3 linked regions of the Homo sapiens genome follow. The protein of the gene in region 3 interacts with the protein of the main gene of each other region in a pairwise test. Each region holds a gene or a part of one and is shown on either strand. Other genes may lie near its edges. The genes, in order: TFAP2A, TGFB1 and TNXB.

The links.
Region 1: the proteins of TNXB (region 3) and TFAP2A interact in a two-hybrid assay, tested with the Homo sapiens proteins (one large-scale study listed by IntAct).
Region 2: the proteins of TNXB (region 3) and TGFB1 interact in binary tests that used the Homo sapiens proteins (3 or more experiments, as listed by UniProt).

The regions. Positions count from the first base shown.
Region 1 is NC_000006.12:10,408,555-10,412,203, forward strand, and holds part of TFAP2A (transcription factor AP-2-alpha), read right to left. Parts: exon of another isoform or gene 3,043-3,649; coding exon of another isoform or gene 3,016-3,042; intron 1,782-3,015; coding exon 1,347-1,781; intron 1-1,346.
Region 2 is NC_000019.10:41,329,817-41,333,465, forward strand, and holds the end of TGFB1 (transforming growth factor beta-1 proprotein preproprotein), read right to left. Parts: intron 2,466-3,649; coding exon 2,312-2,465; intron 1,395-2,311; coding exon 1,236-1,394; 3' UTR 507-1,235; downstream 1-506. UniProt on the Homo sapiens protein: Transforming growth factor beta-1 proprotein: Precursor of the Latency-associated peptide (LAP) and Transforming growth factor beta-1 (TGF-beta-1) chains, which constitute the regulatory and active subunit of TGF-beta-1, respectively.
Region 3 is NC_000006.12:32,092,231-32,095,879, reverse strand, and holds part of TNXB (tenascin-X isoform 3 precursor), read left to right. Parts: coding exon 1-269; intron 270-688; coding exon 689-804; intron 805-3,649. UniProt on the Homo sapiens protein: Appears to mediate interactions between cells and the extracellular matrix. Substrate-adhesion molecule that appears to inhibit cell migration. Accelerates collagen fibril formation. May play a role in supporting the growth of epithelial tumors.

The sequences.
Region 1 (3,649 bases), about 22 Mb from region 3:
ATTAGTGCTCCTCTCACTTCCAAAAAAATGCACTGTTAAGTATCAGTTTCTAAAAACATGTAAGTATGAACACACATATACAGACATACAGTGCTCACTAAACCTTATACTGGATCAAGTGCCCACTTTCCTGCCTTCCATGCAAGGGCTGCTAAACATAACCAACAAATTTCAGTGACTAACTGGGCCAAATGAGAGATGTAATAAATTTTCTATTTTCCTACGGAACTTAAATAATGTTTTAAATTCACCAAGCAAGGAGGTAAGTTCATCTGACCATTTTCCTTACAATCTAATGTAGTAATCATTAAACTGTCAACGGACATACTGCTGCAATATTTGATGCAGTAATTTGAAATAGCATTTTAGTAAAAATCACATCCAGATACATTTCCTCTCCAAAGAAAAGCAGCTTTAACAGAAGCCTTTACAGCTTTAATAAAATTATTGGCTTGCTCTAATTCCATTTCAGGAGGGTTGTGAGGAAACCATAAATATATAGAATTGAAGCAGAGGTACTGGTTTAAGTTTAATTCCAGAAAGTATTTTCAAATTATCAATAGCCTGGTTTGCATTGTAAATAGTAAATGTGCTAATGCCATGCTTATTTAGAAATCATTTTAAACTGCATTTATTGATAACTAAATTAGAACTCAAATAATGTATTACCCAATAGTCTCGAAACATTTAATTTAATATGGAGTGTAGCAGGTTCTGATAGGCGTTGGGAACCTAGCTAATGATTTATGAGGTCACCACTTAGCACCCCTAGTAAGAAGAAGGCTGCATTTTAATGTCCCTCTGCTTGGATTTGCTACTTAGTTTTTCTTTAATCAGGATAGGGTGTACACATAACTTTTAGGTTTCACTTGTGCTTATAAAATCCGGTTAAAATGATCTTAGTGTGTCTTTTACACTTCCTTTTACATTTTGAGGACATTTAATGAGCTCTTTTGGTTGCATTTAACATCATTCCCAGGACAGGGAGAAATCTCCACGCCAGACTCAGCGATGGAAGTAGATCTTTTAGCAATTGAGACAGTTTACTGTCGTCGAGAGGAAGATATTGTTAATGGTGACATTCGTCTGATTTATCTGTGTTGGTGGAAATGGTAATGCAGGCATTGTTTGAGGGAGCTCCAGAAACCATTGTTCTGGGGTAGAACTCGCAACTACTTTGTGTGGTTCCTCAAAACGTCCCTCACTCTCCGCCTCCGAATAAAATGTTTTTATAAGGAAATACTAGGGAGAACCCGGGCCCACCGACTGTATGTTCCAGGTATCCTTTCTGGGGTAGGTAAGTAGGGGGCTGTGTTCCCTCCCGCGCTGGTTGCGCGGCCTCTTACCGGGACCTCCTCGATGGCGTGAGGTAAGGAGTGGATCGAGAGGTCTCCGAGTCCTGAGCTGAGCGCGTGTGGGCCGTGCAGGAGGTCCTCGTGCCGCCTGTAGTCCCTGCGAGGATCCAGGCCCGACAGCTGGTGAGGCAGCCCCCGGTGCGTGTGCAGGAGCCCAGACTCCTGGCTCTGCCTCTGGCCGGGCCAGCCTGGGTGCTGCGGCTGCGGCTGGGCGTGCAGGGGGTTCAGGCTGTAGGGGTCGTTGACGTGGGAGTAAGGATCTTGCGACTGGGGGTAGATAGGCTGGTAGGGTGGGGGGAAGTATGGGGGCTGGAAGTCGGCATTGGGGGTGTGGGACAGCGGCGGGGCGCTCGTGTAGGGAGATTGACCTACAGTGCCCAGCTGGGGCAACCGTGCCGTCCCGTTGCTGGTGCCGTCGTGACGGTCCTAGAAGAGAGCGAGAGGAAAGGTAAAGAACAAGGAATCAGGCGTCGAGCTACAACTATCCACACAAAATCCACTTGACAAGTCTGCGTGGGAAATCGCCCGTTCCCGTTGGCTGGCCGCCGGGAAAAAATCAGCTCTAAGTTCTTTTCAGGAAATACCCTCAAGTGAAACAGACCGAACAACGCAGAGAAACTGTATATGGAGGGGGCACAAGAGACTATTTAGGGGTTTCTTTCAAAGAGAGGAAAAGATAGAAAAGGGTCTCCTGGAACACAGCCCATTAAACTGCAGCGTGAAATCTCTCTTAAGCAAAATTAAAATTCCTCCTAAATACTAAACAGCAGAAGCGGCCTTTTCTTTTCCCCCGATTTGAACCTGTCTGCCACTGCGTTATTGTTTATTCTCTTCCATTTATTTGGAGAGAAAAAAATCATAAACGTTCAAAGACTGTTACCGTTTCATGACTACTTAAATAGAAACATATTTCGCAGAGGGGCTGTAACAAAAACACACGTTTAAATTACCAGCTTAAAGAAGGTTTTAACTGCAGGATCGGGGTCTGTCTTTTTCGCTTCCTCTGTTAGGAGCCTTTTTCTCGACAGAGTCGATTTATGGTTTGGATAGGGAAAGGGGGACGTCAAGTCAAGGTTTAAAATAGAAAGATTCAGCCTTATTGGGTTTAAAAGAGAGAGGTGCACCCCGGGGCTGTGGCCCCCCCCCCCCGCCCCTTCCACCCCAGCCCCAAAGGGCAGAAGAAACGCCTGACTTTAGGTTTCTCTATTGCAATTCCCTTGCAAAACAAGCGAAGAGAGTTGATTCCAGAGACCGCGAACCCTCGGCGGTTCGGCCGCAGGTCCCGAGGGTAGGGGGCACACCGCGCTGCACTTTTCCTGCAGACAGTTTAAGCATCAAATGTTGAGAACATCTCGGGGACAAGTGAAGACTCAAGGAAATCAAGATGAACGTGGGGAGAAACACGCCTTGGGAAGCCGCGGCGAGGTAGGTCTGCGTGCTCGGAGAGGTCGAGCGGGGGCTGGGGTAGGGGGTAATGCACTCGATTTAGGGATGGAAAAGAGCGAGAGAAAGGCGGAAGGTGGGGTGGGGGATGCAAATGGAGAGGGTGTCCTGAAGGAAAGCTGGGCGTGAAACCCGAGGTTTCGGGCAGCTCCACGGCACCAGGTTTCCAGAATCCAATTCCTAAAGAAACAGCAACGGGGGTGGGGATGGGACTCACCATGGCTGAAAAACTGTGAACTAACATCTGCGAAGAGTCTGGGGTAACGAGTCAGGGTGGAAAAAAACAAGCAAGCCTGGAGCGCCCGGCTGCCCCGCCGCCCGAGCGCGCCCCACACAAAAGGCGCCGAGAGCCCCGCGCCACCCAGGACTCCAGTCACGGCGCCGACGCTCCCCGGAGCGCGGGAGCCCGGCTCGGATCCATCCGAACTTGAACCACCGATTCGCGCGGCGCCTTCAGCTGGTCGAACCCACGGTCTCTATCCTGCCGCGACTGGTTATGATTCAAAGTTCTTTAAAAATGAAAAACCCCAAAAAAGGAAAAAGGAAAAAGTATGTGTGAGTGTGTGGGTGCGTGCGTGTTCCTTAATCCGTGTCTCCCCCTCTTTTCTTAGCGGCGGCTTCGCTTGAGCTTCTAATAACCGCGCTGGGCAGCGTTCCTGGAGCCTCCTAATAGCAGATATTCATGACTATTAATATTACACGAATACTTAATAAGGGAAGAATGCCTGGAAATCGAGCGTGAAGCGGAGAGGCAACTCGCGCCGGAGCCGGCTCTCAATGCAGTCCATTGACGGGAGTCTCAGTGTAGCAAATCGGAGTGGGGAGAGGGAGCGCGAGAGACAAAAAGCGAG
Region 2 (3,649 bases), on a different chromosome or scaffold from region 3:
ACCATGTGGTCCAGGCTGGTCTCAAACTCCTGACCTCAAGTGATCCCCCTGCCTCAGCCTCCCAAAGTGCTGGGATTGCAGGTGTGAGCCACCGTGCCCAGTCTTTTTTTTTTTTTTTTTTTAAAGATGCAGTCTTGGCTGGGTGCGCTGGCTCATGCTTGTAATCTCAGCATTTTGGGAGGCCGAGGCGGGCGGATCACCTCAGGTCAGAAGTTCGAGACCAGCCTGAACAACATGGTGAAACTTCGTCTCTACTAAAAAAAAATACAAAATTAGCCGAGCATGGTGGCGCATGCCTGTAATCCCAGCTACCCAGCTACTTGGGAGGCTGAGGCAGGAGAATCGCTTAAACCCGGGAGGCAGAGGTTGTGGTGAGCCAAGATCTCGACATTGCACTCCAGCCTGGGCAACAAGAGTGAAAATCCGTCTCAAAAAAAAAACATAAAAAAAAGATGGAGTCTTGCTTTGTCACCCAGGCTGGCATACAGTGGCACAGTCAGGGCTCACTGCAGCCTTGACCTCCCAGGATCAAGTGATCCTCCCACCTTAGCCTCCAGAGTAGCTGGGACCACAGGTGTACATTTTTTAAAAGTGTTTTGTAGAGATAGGGTCTCACTATGTTACCCAGGCTGGTCTCAAATGCCTGGATTCAAGTAATCCTCCCATCTCTGCCTCCCAAAAGTGCTAGGATTACAGGCGTGAGCCACCCCGCCTGGCCTGAACTACTATCTTTTATTGTCTTCTTCACTATCCCCCACTAAAGCAGGTTCCTGGTGGGCAGGAACTCCTCCCTTAACCTCTCTGGGCTTGTTTCCTCACCTTTAAAATGGGTGTTATCAGAGTCCCTGCATCTCAGAGTGTTGCTATGGTGACTGAATGAGTTCATTAATGTAAGGCACTTCAACAGTGCCCAAGGTGCTCAATAAATAGATCTAACTACAGTAGTGTTCCCCACTGGTCCCCTGTGCCTTGATGCCGGGCAAAGGAATAGTGCAGACAGGCAGGAGGAGGCAGAGAGGGAGAGAGAGGGAGTGGGAGTGGGGGAACGTCAGGGATGGAGACCCCAGGCAGGCGCCCAATGACACAGAGATCCGCAGTCCTCTCTCCATCTTTAATGGGGCCCCAGGTGGGCTTGGGGCACGGGTGTCCTTAAATACAGCCCCCATGGGCAAGGCAGCGGGGGCGGGGCGGGGTGGGGCCGGGCCTGCCGGGGCGGGGCGGGGCGGGGCGGGACCTCAGCTGCACTTGCAGGAGCGCACGATCATGTTGGACAGCTGCTCCACCTTGGGCTTGCGGCCCACGTAGTACACGATGGGCAGCGGCTCCAGCGCCTGCGGCACGCAGCACGGCGCCGCCGAGGCGCCCGGGTTATGCTGGTTGTACAGGGCCAGGACCTGCGGGCGGCGGGCGGGGTCAGGGCTCAGGGCTCGTGGAGGGAGGAAAACGGCCCTCCACTGCCCCATCCCCCACCCGCTACCGCGCCAGCCTCTCTCACTTCGTCTCTCCCCGCATCCCCTCTTCCCATCTCCAATTCGGTCTCTCTTATCTTCTAACATCCTATCTTATTCTGTCTCTCCCCACCTGTCTGATTTTCTTTTTGTTTTGAGACTGGGTCTCGCTCTGCCACCCAGGCTGGAGTATAGTGGCACGATCATGGCTCGCTGCAGCCTCAACCTCCTGAGCGCAAGCCATCCTCCCGCCTCAGCCTCCGGAGTAGCTCCAACCACAGGCAAGCGCCACCACTCCTAGCTTTTTTTTTTTTTTTTTTTTTTTTTTTGGTAGAGATGGGATCTCAGTCTGCTGCCTGGGCTACTCTCGAACTCCTGGGCTCAAGCGATCCTCCTGCTTCAGCGTCCCAAAGTGTTGGTATTACCATCGTGAGCCGCCGCGCCCGCCTGATTTTCTTTCTCAGTCTCTGTCCCTCCTCATCTTCGCCTCTTGCCTTGTTGTGTATCTGTCTTTGTCTCTCCTTGGCCTAACTCTGTGTCTGTATCTGTCTCTCTCATTTTGTCTCTCCATTTCTGCGTTTTTCCTTCCATCTCCCTGTCTCTCTTCTCCCCTTCACCCCCATCCCTCTGTTACTTCACTCTGTGGGTCTTCATAGCTCATCTCCCTCTGGCCCCTGCTCAGAGCCCCTCTCTAGCTTCCTGCCTCTCTCCCCATCTCTTTATTCATTCCCCTCCCCACCCCATCCCTCTCTTTCTCCCCATCCTGCCAACTCACCTCTCTGACTTTACTTCTCTTTCTCTCTCCTCTTCCTCCGTCCTGGCTCCCCCCAAGCGCATCTCGTAGCCCGGTGGGCCAGACGTACCTTGCTGTACTGCGTGTCCAGGCTCCAAATGTAGGGGCAGGGCCCGAGGCAGAAGTTGGCATGGTAGCCCTTGGGCTCGTGGATCCACTTCCAGCCGAGGTCCTTGCGGAAGTCAATGTACAGCTGCCGCACGCAGCAGTTCTTCTCCGTGGAGCTGCAGGCAGGAGAGACGCGTCAGGGGCAGGGAGGGGCTACCACCATAGAAGCCACATGCCCCTCCTCCCCAGGTGCGTGTGTCACCCTAGGTTGCCCCCCCAGCCCTATCTCCATCTGGGTCTCCCTTGCACCCACTGTGTTAATAACAACACAAATAGTCATGATAATCACTAACACAGATTAAGCACTTCCTCCAGTGCTAAGAGCAATGTAATAATTAATTTCACGCAATGCTTAAGACAAGCCTGTAAGAAGCCAGATGACCATCCACGGGGGGGCTAAATAAATCATGGCATGCCACACCCTGGAACATACAAAATAACACAGCTCCATGTAAACTGATCTGCTCTATTTGTGCAACAAATGTTTATTGAACTACTACTGTGTGCTGGGCTGGGATCTACTGTGGACTGAGGACAAATGAAACAGATAGAAATAGGCTAGGCATGGTGGCTCACACCTTTAATCCCAGCACTTTGGGAGGATGAAGTGGGAGGATCGCTGGAGTCGAGGAGTTCGAGGTTGCAGTGAACTATGATAACACCACTGCATGCCAGCCTGGACAACAAAGTGCAAGACCCTGTCTCTACAAAATTTTTTTTCAATTTTTTTAAAAAAGAGACAGAAATCTCTGCCCTCCATGGGCATGCTATAAATTGTCTTGTCACTCCTCTGCTCTGAACCTGGCTCCATCTCACGGCAAATGCCCAAGTCCTCACCGTGAGCCACAAGGTGCTATCAAATCTGGCTGATCTCAACTCCCTCTCTCACGCCTACTCCACTCCAGCCACACTGGCGTCCTGTCTGTTCCTCAGACAGTCTTATTTCGGGGCTCCTGCATCTGCTGTTCCCTCTGCCTGCCTTGCTAGTCCCACAGATACCCACTCCAGCTTGTTCCTTCACTTCATTTCTTCTTTTTTTTTCTATTTTTTTTTTTTTTTTTTTTTGAGACAGAGTCTCACTCTGTCTGCCAGGCTGGAGTGCAGTGGCATGATCTCGGCTCACTGCAACCTCCGCCTCCCAGGTTCAAGCGATTCTCCTGCCTCAGCCTTCCGAGTAGCTGGGATTACAGGCGTGTGCCACCATGCCCGGCTAATTTTTTTGTCTTTTTAGTAGAGACAGGGTTTCACCATGTTGGCCAGGCTGGTCTCGAACTCCTGACCTTGTGATCCGCCCACCTCA
Region 3 (3,649 bases):
ACGTGGGCGGTGTGTGCAAGGAGTGTGCCTGTGCCACGTGGGCTATGGCGGTGAGGACTGCGGGCAGGAAGAGCCTCCAGCCAGCGCCTGCCCTGGAGGCTGCGGGCCCCGGGAACTGTGCCGGGCAGGCCAGTGTGTGTGTGTAGAGGGCTTCCGAGGCCCTGACTGTGCCATCCAGACATGCCCAGGGGACTGCCGTGGCCGAGGAGAGTGTCACGATGGCAGCTGTGTCTGCAAAGATGGGTATGCTGGCGAAGACTGCGGAGAAGGTGAGCAGGCAGCCTTCCCCAGTGTACTCTGGGACTGTGATTCTGTGAACAGGAGCCATGGGGAAGACCTGAGCCTGAGGAAGAGTGGAGGGAGAGCATGTCATTCCAAGGAGCCAGTGCCCACCAGGGGCAGCAGAACCACAGGGGTGGGGCTTTCCAGTGGGCAGGACTGGCCTTCAGATCTCTGAGGAGCAGGTTGGGGCCCATTTAGTTGCATTTAGGGAGATTCTGTGCTCCTGAAGATGGAGAGAAGGTGAAGGCGATCCAAGCCCCGTTCAGCCCTCTGTCAGCTATTCTCCACTAGCAGAGAGGAGTGGGAGTTAGGATGGGCCTCTTCGATGTCCCTGAGTAAAAGGGGCTGTGGGTGGGGGTGGTTGCCTTGTGCTAACCAGCTTTCCCTAACCCATTCTCTTGGGCAGAGGTGCCAACCATTGAGGGCATGAGGATGCATCTCTTGGAGGAGACAACAGTTCGGACAGAGTGGACCCCGGCTCCTGGCCCCGTGGATGCCTATGAAATTCAGTTCATCCCCACGGTGAGAGAGATGCCAGGCTCCAGGAGGGGACTGAGTGGGCAGGACAGGGGGGCAGGGCTCACCTCCTGGAGGAAGTTCCAGGTGATCATTGGTTGAGTCCAGATGGCTGGGTACCTGAAGCTGCTGTAAAGGCTTTCTTAGCCTGCTTGACACTGGGCACTGAGGCCTCTGCAGCATCTCCAGCAAGCATTGGTCCCACACAGTTGGAACACCTGGTAACAGAGAGCTCAGTACTTCCTGAGGCTGTCCAGTCCATTGTTGGTCATCACTGTTAGCTGTTATCATTGTTGCAGAATCCGTCTGCCCCTATTCTAGCACCTGTCCGTTGGCCCTAGCTGGGTATTCATCAGCAGCTGGAATGTTTTTTGCTTTCCCTGTGTCCTACACCACAGGCCTTCAGGTATTTGGAGACACCAGCCTGATGTCTTCATTCCTCAGGCAAAACCTCCCAGTTTCTTCGCCCCTTTTCCCTAAGTCTTTATTCTCTGAATCCTTTACCTTCCTGTGATTCTTGCTTTTTTCATGTGCCCCCAAAATGTGGGGACAGAGAGGGGCCCACTGACTTACTCTGAATTTATGGACACTTTTCTCAGAGCTGGCGTATAGCAATTTGTAGTCACACAAGCAGGCAGCTGTTTTGGTCATATTTGGTTTTTTAAGTAACTTTTAATTATAAAAGTAATATAGGCCCCGTGCAGAAAACTTAGAAAATACAGATTAGCAGGGAAAAAAGATGGAAGGAAAGAAGACAACATTCAACTATATACACTTTTTTTTTTTTCACCTAAATATAGGCCTTTGCATTTGGCCCTGTTCAATGTTATCTTTTTTGGTTTGGGCCAAGCTGTCTAGGCTGTTGCAATAATTTTGAGTCTGTGAACTTCATCTCCCACCTCCTTGTCATCAGTACATGCAAACCAGTTTTTTCTCTGTCTCCCTCCAACTTGCTCTTTTTTTTTTTTTTTTTTTTTTTTTTTTTTGAGACAGAGAGTCTCACTCTGTGGCCCAGGCTCGAGTGCAGTGGTGCCATCTCAGCTCACTGCAACCTCTGCATCCCAGGCTTAGGTCATCCTCTTACCTCAGCCTCCCAAGTAGCTGGGACTACAGGTGTGCACCACCTTAGCCTGCTAATGTTTGTATTTTTAGTAGAGACGGGGTTTCTCCATGTTGCATGCCCAGGCTGGTCCTGAACTCCTGGGCTCAAGTGATCTGCCCGCCTCAGCCTCCCAAAGTGCTGGGATTACAGGCATGAGCCACCACTCCTGGCCATCCAACTTGCTCTTAAAACATTAGAGGGAACACCCTAAGGACAAAGCCTTGTGGTCACTTATTTGGGGCCTCCCTTTGTGCAGACTGGGCTTTTAAGATATGGTCGTTTCCCCAGCTGCAAATCTTCTGACATTTCTACCATCCAACTCATGTTTTCCTGCATCATCCCACAAATGCCATATGGGGTGTGGGCCATGTCATCCTCATCTTCATCAGCTTAGCCAGGACTCTGTAAAAATAAACAACTCCCTGGGCCTAAAGCCTCGGAAGGCACTAGGACAGAAGGGGACAGCTCAGAGGAACTGTCATCCTCACTCCACTTTGCTTTGTCTTGTCATTATGCTCCTCAGGCCAGCCCCCTACTATGTTCTGCCTCTCCTCACTCTCCAGCCAAAGCAGAAGCAGAAATCTCAACTTCGTGGCGCAACCAAGATAGCTTGAATTTTTTCTTCTGTTTAAACATCTTTTTTTGTTGTTGTTATAAAAATACTTTAATCACGAGACAAGAATTTGGCAACTAGAGAAAAGAAAAACAATTCCTGGCTGCTCCTCACTAAAACAAGCACTGCTAACATTTTAAAGTGTTTCTCCCACTCTCTTCTTCTCTGTATATATTATTTACATAGCTCTAATCTTGAAAGGGTGGGACTTCGAAAAGGAAGTTTCTTAAGAAATTTCAGGGAAAGAAGAATTAAAATAAACACTTGAGATAAGAGGAGCTTTTAGGGCAGCAGTTGTCTCCTGCTCTGAGTAAATAAATACAAACCGATCCTTGGTGTTGTCAAGGGCGCCGCTTTCCAGTTGAAGCCCTAGACTTTCTCCCTCACTCAGAGCCAGGATGGTGGTGCCAAGTTGGCCTGTGCCAGGCTTGGCCATGTTCTTAGCTCATCCATTCTGCTCTCGGTATGGGCATCTGTCACATTCTGGGTCTTCTCTGAGCCTGGGTGTGGAAAACACTCCTGTAAAATTGGTCCCCAGACACTCCTCTTGGGCCTGGGCTACCCACCCTCAGACCATGCTTTCTGCTGTCTGTAGCTGGTCCCTGGCATCGTACCTTCTGCCTTGGCAAGTGCCATCTATTTCTTTTCTTTTCTTTCTTTCTTTTTTTTTTTTTTTGAGACAGAGTTTTGCTCTTGTTGCTCAGGCTGGAGTGCAATGGCGCAATCTCGGCTCACTGCAACCTCTGCTTCCCAGGTTCAAACGATTCTCCTGCCTCAGCCTCCCAAGTAGCTGGGATTACAGACACCTGCCACAATGCCCAGCTACCCTTTGTCCATTTCTGTGGGTACAGAGTATATTCAATAGCTGTCTGTCCTCTGGCTGCTGCTGTCATCCTAGAAGCCTATCTCTACCTCTTACCTTCCCTCTTCCCAGAAGCACTTCTCTCTCAAAGCCCAAACTCTGCTATTCCAGATCAAGGGACATACCTAGTTATTGGAATTATTTTTCAGAATGCAGAAGAAGAAAGTTTCTCCTCTCCCTGTATATGTGGCACTGTTACTCTGACTCAGTGGTTCTCAAAGTGTGTTCCCTGGACCTGCAGCATCAGCATCACCTGGGAGTATGTTAGGCATGC